Regions from separate parts of the Homo sapiens genome. Here region 2 is linked to region 1. The links come from fine-mapping of genetic effects on plasma protein levels. A gene starts in region 1. The other region holds a variant in brackets. All regions are shown on one strand. Distances are between the middles of the regions.

What was found. A credible set is the group of variants that fine-mapping cannot tell apart. PIP is the chance, under the fine-mapping model, that this variant and not a neighbour inherited with it causes the effect. Protein levels are from antibody-based Olink assays in UK Biobank. Linkage for the fine-mapping came from a reference panel and not from the study's own genotypes, which makes the PIPs less certain.
Region 2: its variant is the best candidate, but not a certain one, in a credible set for the plasma level of the KLRF1 protein (UK Biobank, PIP 0.69).

The regions. Positions count from the first base shown.
Region 1 is chr12:9,824,243-9,829,635 of GRCh38, forward strand. KLRF1 (killer cell lectin like receptor F1) reads left to right here and starts at 3,239. Exons shown (of 6, transcript NM_016523.3): 1 at 3,239-3,387. The coding sequence starts at 3,303.
Region 2 is chr12:9,814,261-9,819,653 of GRCh38, forward strand. It overlaps a transcript of KLRF1 not described here and the pseudogene GCNAP1. Among named protein-coding and RNA genes, the nearest start is that of KLRF1, 11 kb to the right of the region's middle. The variant A/G (reference allele first, on the strand shown) is at 3,206.

The sequences.
Region 1 (5,393 bases):
TCCAGCACCACTCAAAGAGCTAATTCACCATGATCAAGTGGACATTATCTCTGGGATGCAAGGTTGGTTCAACATACACAACTCAATAAATATGACTCATTTCATAAACAGAACTAAACACAAAAATCACATGATTATTTCAATAGAAACAGTAAGAGGTTTCAATAAAACCAACACGCTTTCATGTTAAAATCACTCAATAAACTATGTATTGCAGAAACATCTCAAAATAATAAGAGCCAGCTGTAATAAGCCCACAGCCAACATTATCCTGAACAGGTGAAAGCTGGAAGCATTCCCCTTGAAAAGCACAAGACACGAATGCCCACTCTCAACATTCCTATTCAACATAGTATTGGAAATCCTTGCCAGAGCAATCAGGTGAGAGAAAGAAATGAAGGGCATCCAAATAGGAAGAGAGGACGTAAAACTATTCCTGTTTTCAGACCATATGATTATATACCTAGAAAACCCCATACTCTTGGCCAAAAAGCTCCTTCAACTGATAAACAACATCAGCAAAGTTTCAGGATACAAAATCAACATACAAAAATCACCAACATTCCTGTACACCTATACACAACACCCAAGCTGACAGCCAAATCAGGAATGCAATTCCATTTATGATAGCCACAAAAACAATAAAATACATAGGAATACAGTCAACCAGGGAGGTGAAAGAGCTCTACAAGGATAATTACAAAACATTGCTTAAAGAAATCAGAGATGACACAAACAAATGAAAAACATTCCATGCTCATGGATCAGAATAATAAATATCATTAAAATGGTCATATTGCCCAAAGCAATTTACAGATTTAATGCTATTCCTATCATACTACCAATGACATTCTTCACAGAACTAGAAGAAAACTATTTTAAAATTCATCTGGAACAGAAAAATTAGCCCAAATAGCCAAGGCAATCCTAAGCAAAAAGAACAACACTGGAGGCATCACATTGCCCAACTTCAAATTATACTACAGTACTACAATATCCAAAATAACAAGGTACTGGTAAAAAAAAAAAAAAAAGCAGACACATAGACCATTGGAACACAATGGTCTAATGCAGACACATAGACCACTGGACAGAAAGCCCAGAAATAGTGCTGCACAACTACACCCATCTGATCTTCAGCAAAGCTGACAAAAACAAGCCATGGGAAAAGGATTCCCTTTTTAATAAATGGTGCTGAGATAACTGGCTAGCCACATGCTGAAGATTGAAAGTGGACCCCTTCCTTATACCATATACAAAGCTCAACTCAAGATGGATAAAATACTTATGTCTAAAACCCCAAAATATAAAAAACCCTGGAAGATAACCTAGGAATTACCATCCTGGACACAGGAATGGGCAAATATTTCATGACAAAGATGCCAAAAGCAATTGCAACAAAAGTGAAACAAAACAAAACAAACAAACAAAATAATTAACTGTAAGAGCTTCTGCACAGCAAGAGAAACTATCAACAGAGTGAACAGATAATCTACAGAATGGGAGAAAATTTTTGCAGACTATGCATTTGACAAAGGTCTAATATCCAGCATCTGTAAGAAACTTAAACCAATCAACAAGCAAAAAATAAACAACCCCATTAAAAAGTGGACTAAGGACATGAACAGATACTTTTCGTGTTTTATTTATCAATCTTAATTTACTTCTTATCCATTTGGAGTGTCAAATAATGGCCAAAGAAATTGTAATTATAAATTAAAGAACAAAATTTAGCAAGTAAAAATAAACAAAAATAACACAAAAATGTATTATCCTTTTACTTTTGTCATTAAGCAACAAATATATTTCTGATAATTTGTCAAATATTTTCTCCTTGAATTAATAGTTTATCTTATTTAAAAGGGTATATTGTGTTTTTAAAATTTTATTTTAAATTTGGGAGTACATGTGCAAATTTGTTACATAGGTAAACTTGTGTAATGGGGGTTTGCTGTAAAGATTATTTCTTCACCCAGGTATTAACCCTAGTACCCATTAGTTATTTTTCCTGATCCTTTCCCTCTTCCCACCCTCTATCCTCCAGTAGGCACTAATCATTAGGGAAATGCAAATTAAAACCACAGTAAGATACCATCTCATACCAGTCGAATGGCTATTATTAAAAAGTCAAAAAATAACAGATGCTGATGAGGTAGTGGAGAAAAGGGTTCACTTATACACCTTTGATGGGAGTGTAAATTAGTTCAACCATTATGAAAGATAGCATGGTGATTCCTTAAAGACCTAAAACCAGAAATTTGACCCAGCAATCCCATTACTGGTATATACCCAAAGGAATATAAATCTATCATAAAGACACATGCATGCATCTGTTCATGGCAGCACTGTTGACAATAGCAAAGACATGCAATCAACCTAAATGCCCATCAATGGTAGACTGGATAAAGAAAATGTGATACACATATACAAAGGAATACTATGCAGCTATAAAAAAGAATGAGATGATGTCCATTGCAGGAACATAGATGAAGCTAGAGGCCGTTACCCTTAACAAACTAATGGAGGAACAGAAAACCAAATACCACATGTTCTCACTAATAATTGGGATCTAAATGATGAGAACACATGTACACATAGAGGAGAATGACAGACACCGGAGCCTACTTGAAGGTGGAGGGTGAGAGGAGGGGCAGGATCAGAAAAACATAACTATGTAGTACTAGTCTGAATACCTGGGTGATGAAATAATATGTACAACAAACCCCTGTGACATGATTTTACCTATATAACAAACCTACACATGTAGCCCTGAACCTAAAAGTTAAAAAAAATCAAATTATACTGTTAAATTATTAGCATGATTTATAAACAATATTGTTTTAGGATAAAGAATTTAATTGCTTGGCAATTGCAAATTATTAAATTAAATATCAATATGTTAGGGAGGCTAATTCAAATGATATAAATATTTAGGCTATAACAAAAGGCAGCTATATATTATTAACCTCACCTCAAAAAGGGGCATAATTTCCATTCCCTTGACTTTAAGGGTAAATTAAGAGAAATTTGTAAAGCACTCAAAAGAATATTCAATTCAATATGTGGTGGACAGTTGAGAAATTATGTGTTATCTATGTCATGGGAAAGCAACTTTTAAAAAGAAAACATTTCCTCTGAGGTTTTCACAAATAAGTGAAACTGTGAACCCTCATATGTACTGTGAAAGGACAATTTGAGGAGCATCTCTGATTAGCAGCAGATTTATTATTCTTTCCTCATTTCATGTTATACTTAATAAAACAAAACATACCTGTATACACACACATTCACTCACATTGAAGATGCAAGATGAAGAAAGATACATGACATTGAATGTACAGTCAAAGAAAAGGAGTTCTGCCCAAACATCTCAACTTACATTTAAAGGTATGGAATTTAATTTCATTTTTTCAATTGGTGTGAATTAACATGGTAGTTTCCCGTATCCTGTTCCATTGTGTTATTGGACTGTTTCAGTATTTGGGTGCTTTTCTTTCTCCGTCTCTGTATCTCTCTCACCTGTCCTCTCTTTCAATATTAATAATGATTTAAAAATAACAACCTCTCTTACCATTTAAGAAACACCAGTTTCCGGCACTATACAGAATGTTTTATCTATGTTCCTTCATTTAATCTTACAAATTTACTATGAGATAATCTCTCTCTCTCCCATTTATCAATGTGGAACTAACACTTACTTGTAATATTTTGTCTGATATAATTTCTTAAGGACATTCTCTGAGGAAATATGCATACTCAATTAAAATTAATAATTTCAAATTAGTGAATATTTGCTGCCATTCACCTCCTTATCATTCATAGAATATGGTGTTTTAATGCTATTTTTTTTTTTTGAGACGGAGTTTCACTGTTGTTGCCCAGGCTGGAGTGCAATGGCATGATCTCGGCTCACTGCAACCTCTGCCTCCCAGGTTCAAGCAATTCTCCTGCCTCAGCCTCCTGAGTAGCTGAGATTATAGGTGCCCGCCACCATGCCTGGCTAATTTTTTGCGTTTTTAGTAGAGATGGGGTTTTACCATGTTGGCCAGGCTGGTCTTGAACTCCTGACCTCAGGTGATCCACCCACCTGAGTCTTCCAAAGTGTTGGGATTATAGGCATGAGCCACCGCGCCCAGCCTTTAATACTAATTTTTAATTCAACTTCTCAAAAACTTTATGCTTTTCACCAAGTTGACTCAAAATAAAGTTTATACACCAGCAATCAACATTTTAATTTGCTACTTCAAGCATACCCTCCATACACAATGCAATTCCATCATGCCACCTTAATGTGATTTGGCAAAAGAGATAAGCAGAAATTAAAGACACAAATAATCACAGTTATAGAGACTGTCTGTTCTGTTCTGTTGCTTTCTAAATATTTCTCTTTTAATAACTTCACCCATGAAAATTTTACTTATCTCTTGAGTCCTTCCACAAGTATCATCCATCAGTGATTCATCTTAGAGTTACATACGTGCTATGTATAAGAAATTTATTGCCTCTTCCATGTGAATTTTTAGATTCCCATATTTTCAAGTCTTTACTTCCTACACTCAATTTTTATTTCATTTTTGGAAATTAGAGATATTAAACCTGAAAGACTACAACATGTAGTGACTTCTCTGCAGACTTTTTTCCACACTCTGTTCATAAATGTCTCTCTGAAGCAAAAATGTGCAGATTTTCGGCTCCCAGATATTTAAGTGACACATACTAATATTTATGTCTTGTACCTTTAGCTAATATTTATTAAAGCTTGAGGTAAGACGTATTTTATGTGAATTAGATTGACAATGTGAGCCTTGGGGTTATGATGTTCATTCATTTAACTTAATTTTGTGATGACATATTTGTAAATCTTTTCTCATATATTGAAAAACCTTTGTTGCCAGTGATAGTAAGAAATTACATAATTGCTCTATCCCACTATACATATGTAGTAGTTTCAGAATCACTATAGAAATAATATTATAATAATAGTTACTTAAAACAGATTAAAATGTTTTGCGGTTTTAAAAAATCCTTAAGATATATTCCATTGAGCATGCACAGTTAAATGTTTTAAAATCACTTTAAGTAATTCCTCTCTCTATAGTGAAGACACTAACAATACCTAGTTAGATTCCTTTTCTTCATTTTTTATGGATTTTTTTTCATTTTTGTTTAACTTACTTTATAGTAGCATAAAACATTTACATATTTTCAGTCAAACTTATATAATGAGGGGCCAAGTGTGGTGGCTCATGCCATTAATCCCAGCACTTTGGAAGGCCGAGGCAGGATGATCGCTTGAGGCCAGGAGTTCAAGACCTGCCTGGGCAACAAATCAAGACCCCCATCTCTACAAACAATAGAGATAAAAAAATTAATCAGTCATGGTGGCACATGCC
Region 2 (5,393 bases), 10 kb before region 1:
CACTGACAGCCACCCCGACTCCCAATAGCAAAGCAGCTGCGCACCGACAGGCTTTCTCCACCCACTGCCATCTCCACAGCCGGGACTGCCACCACCCAAGCACGCCGCTGGGAGGCGCCTGGGGATTGCCCACTCTGCCAACCACAGCCTGAGCCCTGAGCACAACATAGGGGATTGGGTTGTCTGAGGGTAGGACCACACCACCAAGCAAAGCCTCTCCCAGTGCCTGAGCACACTGCCCAGGGGCCTGGGGATCCATGGCCCTGTCCCACCCGTAGCTCCGCGTATGCTCCTGCACCATCAGGAGGCCTGACTGAAGACCCAGCCTGGCTGCTCGCAAGCCCCACCTACCACAGCCTGTGTGCACCATCAGGAGGCCTGAGGTTGGACCCGCAAAGCCTGGTACGGCCCACAAGTGCCCAAGTGCATCATTCAGTGGCCTGGGGACCGCCTTTCCACCACCGCTGACATCTGCACTCCTTTGGGGGCCCGAGGGCTGCCCGCCCAGCCCACCCTTTGCTGCCACCATAAAAGGTTATTGTAATGGAGGTAAAGAGTAGAATGATAGTTACTAGCAGCTGTGAAGGATGTGTGTGTGTGTGTGTGGGAGGGGGGAGGTATGCAAACATACAATTAGAAGGAATAAGTTCTAGTGTTCAACAGAATAGTAGAGTGACTATAGTTAACGACGATGTATTTTATATTTCAAAATAGTTATGAGAAGATTTGAAGTGTTCCCAACACAAAGAAATAATAAATGCTTGAGGTGATGGATATCCTAAACACCCTGACTTGATAATTACACAACCGATGCATGTATCAAAATATGACATGTACCTTAGAGATACATGAAAATATTATGTACCAATAAGAATATAAAAAAGAAATAAAATGAAACAAGAATACTTTTCTTATAAATCATGATGATAACAAGAACTATAGAAATTGCACCTTCAAATTAACTTGACAAGGCAAATCCTACCTATTTTCTAATATACTACTTTCTAGCTTAAATGTAAAAAGCCAGTTATTTCAATGAATTCAAAATTTATTTGTGGAAGTAACAGAAATGTCTCAACATGCTATGGTTTGATTAATCATTTCTACACTAACTTCTGAGAGAAGATTTGACAAGAGGACTCTGGGATAGGAGCTATCTATATCCAGGATGATTCTATCTGAGCCGCAGATGGACTTCTGTGGATTTTTTGTGTGGTTGAGGTCTATTTCTCTGTCAGCAGATACCACTTGAGTAGCAGGAGACAAGGTATAGCTTGCTACGCACTCCATCTTTCTTTTCTTTGACTCTGTCCAGCTAATTGTACAAAGTGTGTGGATCAAGCAATGACCTAGATTATCATTATATTGGATCCAAGTTATTGGTGTGTTTCTTGGGTTGGCCTAGCATTGTATTTACCAAGACTATGAGGAAAGTGGTGCTAAAATACGCTCCTGTAAATCTCCTGGCTTCCAGGCATAGTCCTTACCACAATGTGTAAGAGCAACCCAATTTCTGCCTGTATGGCTGCTGCGGCTGCTGCTGCTTCTTATTCCTCTTCTTATTCTTCTTCTTTTGAGATGGAGTTTCACTCTTGTTGCCCAGGCTGGAGTGCAATGGCGTGATCTCAGCTCACTGAAACCTCCGCCTCCTGGATTCAAGTGATTCTCCTGCTTCAGCCTCCTGAATAGCTGGGATTACAGGCACACGCCACCACGCCTAGCTGATTTTGTATTTTTAGTAGAGATGGGGTTTCTCCAGGTTGGTCAGGCTGGTCTCGAACTCCTGATCTCAGGTGATCTGCCCGCCTCGGCCTCCCAAAGTGCTGAGATTAAACTGTGAGCCACTGCGCCTGGCCACAGCAATCTTCTTCTCTGCCAGCTGCTTCAATGACTGCGGAGCCCAACGTGCAACAAGGAAGTCTCATCTTCCTGTTCATCAGGATAATGGTCATATTCCTTATTAGAATAATCTTGCCATAGGCATTAGAACCTCTAAACCCAGCACAAACAAGATCTTGGGAAAAGGAGACAATTTTCAAGTGAATTATTAGGTGTACTAGTACAAGGCTACTCCAAATCTGAATCCTAACTCTATGCTTTTGTTCCCATACCTGTACATTCTGGCTATGGCAGAGACAGCAACATATATTGGTAAGGCAAATACCCCCTCTTAAAAAACTGAATCCCACACTTGCAAGCTGTTTTATTCCAACTGGTGTCATTAGTGTGCTTTCAGGAAGTCATTTCAATACCCTGGTTAGCCAGTTACTTAGGGGCAAGTAACTTCTTTTTTTTTTTTTGAGATGCAGAAAACATTCTATTTTTTGATTACATGGCTCAGATAGTTTCATTCAGTGTCATCAGCAATGAACTTCATGAAACATGTTCATCTTTCCTGTCTAGGTAGATGTCACAGTAGCCCTGGTTTTTAAGTGTTGCCTCTAAAACTTGTCCTCTTTCCAGCATTCTCTTCTTTTTTTTTTTTTTTTTTGAGACGGAGTCTCACTCTGTCTCCCAGGCTGGAGTGCAGTGGCGCGATCTCGGCTCACTGCAATCTCCGCCTCTCAGGTTCACGCCATTCTCCTGCCTCAGCCTTCCAAGTAGCTGGGCCCAACACCATGCCCGGCTAATATTTTTTTTTCTTTTGTATTTTTATTAGAGATGGGGTTTCACCGTGTTAGCCAGGGTGGTCTCGATCTGCTGACCTCGTGATCCGCCCGCCTCAGCCTCCCATCCAGCATTCTCTTCTTTCTCTCAACCTGCCACTATTGAAAACTCACTTTTCTTTTGCATTTTGTCCTACGTGTGAAAACTATTGAGCTGAAGTAAGACCCAAGGTAGATCCCAAGGGCTTCAGATCTACCCTGTCAAGGGCACAGAATGGTTAGCAATAGAGCCCCTTGTTAAGGTCAATCATGGTTAATAACATGAATGTTAAATTCTAATATTACTTAACAGTATCTAAATTCTAATATCCTTAATTTCACAAAAACAAACTTTTCTAACACTTCTTACCAGTAAAGGATTTAGCTCACACGAATATACTCTCAGATAACCTTAAGAATTCTGCCTTGCTTTGTAATTCCTGCCAGTGCTGCATAAGCCAGCAGTTCTCAGCATCTTTTTATTCTAGCTGATCTCTAGTTTCTCTGGTAGCTTTTTATCACAGACGGAGCTGTTAAACAGGTCGTAGATTCTCTGAACC[A/G]GTTCATCCTTATTTCGCTTGAGATTTTTTTCCAGAGTACTGTTTTGACTTTTCAAGGTCAAGCAAGAAACATCCAGGGACTTTGCGCTTATGAGTCCTAGTCTTGCATTTTTCAACTTTGGCCACACCGGGTTTCTTCTTTGAAGGTCCACGGTTTTTCTGTCCCTTACCAGCAGGTGTTACAGATACATTTTTGGTCTTTGCCTTCCTCTTCCTCAGTGGCTCCACTATATTTTTGGTCTTTGCCTGTCTTTTCCTCAGTCACCCCATGATATTTTTTGGTCTTTGCCTTCCTTTTCCTTGATTATTCCACCACAGGTGCAGGCACTTCCTCAGTTGGCAGCTTCCTCTCTGAAACCTCAAGTTTAGTCTCAGGATCACCTGGTGGTTCACTAAGATTCTCACCAAGATCATGCTCAACCAGCATCATCAGATGAATCATGCTGGCAGACAGCAGCCTCATCCAGCTCTTCTTCATCTGAGGCAGTTTGGTCCTCATCATACGAATCTTCTGCTGGCACAGAAACTTCCAAATCATTACTGTCATCATTGTCATCATCACCATCACTAATAACTATTGGAGGGTTCCTGGATGGTGGGCTGCACATAACAACACTCCAGACTCTCATCGTCACTGCTTATTTAGAATATCTTAGCTTTCTTCTCCTCATAGGAGTAGCATTCATCATCAGAGTCAGAGTTGATCACTACCATAGAGCTGGACTGTCTCTTCTGAGCTCTTCTGGCCATAGAAGACCCGTGGTTCTCATCACTGCTTGAATCAACGTTAAGGATGTATCAATTCTCCTCTGGGTTGTGCAAGTGGCACAGCTCTTCTTTGTACCTGTCCATGTCTGGTCTTGCAGCCTCTGGTGTGGCCAGCGGCAGCTCACCTCCAACTGCCCATGGAATGTGTGTGAGATCCTGAGCAACTGGGCAAGTAACTTCTATAGGCATGAACTGATTGTCAATCTTTCTTTGTTGTAAAATGTCAAATACAATATTGTGTGAGGAACCATGACAATGGATAAGACATTCTGTAACTCTTAAGTATTGATGTTAGTAGAAGCACTGTAGGCATAGAAGGCAAATCTGTTCCTAAAATATGTGATTGTTCCTATGAAGACCAAGCAGCATCTAGTCCAAGATTAAAGAGACTTAAGTAATAAATCTGCCCTTAGGTGACTGGCTGGTAAATCTCCTGGTTCCAGGCATAGTCCATGCCAAAATGAAAATGTTTTCCCCCTAAATTTTGCTTTTATTTATTTATTTTTGTATTTAGAATTAGTCTTAGAATGCCAAAAAAATTGTCAGTATTTTTTTGTCTTCTTCAAGTTATAATATTGAGCAAGTGCAGGTAGCCAACTAGAAGCAGCTAGTGTGTGCTGTTCTCACAGGAGAAATAGAAGGGGCTAGTAAATACAGCACCTTCAACTGAAGCATCCAGTTACACACATTGGGATTCATCAAGAAAACAACTCAATCCGTGGAGGATGAAGTAAAGCAAGGCAGGACGACTGCCCACCCGGGAGCAACATGGAGCCAGGGGAGCCTTCCCCACCCAGGGAAGCAGTGAGTGACTGAGCACCTGGGGGAGCACAATTCTCCCATGGATCTTTGCAACCCTTGGGTCAGGAGATCCCCTTGTGAACCCATCCCACAAAGGCCTGCAGTCTGACACACAGAGCTACAGGGAGTCCTGGAAGAGTAGCCTCTCAGGCACACGCAGAGCCCTGGGAGCCTTAGATACCAGGGCTTCCCAGCAAAAGTGGCTGGGAATTTAGACATCTCTACATCCCTAGGAAAGGGGCTGAATCCAAGGGGCTGAGCAGGGATTGTCCGCAGGCCCTGCTTCCATGGCACCTCACAGGATAAGACCCTCTGGCTTGGAACTCCAGCCAGCCACTGGTAGCAAGGTTATACCTCCCCTGAGATGAATCTCTCAGAAGGAGGGGCTGGACATCATTTTTGCTGTTTTGCAGCCTTAGCCATTGTTGCCAAAATCCAAGGTGACTAAGGATTGGAGAAGCCCCCAAAATAGCACAGCTGCTCTACAGGGAGGCTGCCAGACTGTTTTTTTCACGTGGGTCTTGGATCCCATTTCTCTTCACTGAGCAAAATCTCCTCACTGAGGTCCACAACCACCTCCACAAGTGTTTTTGAGCTGGCAACAGGTCTGTACCCCTCT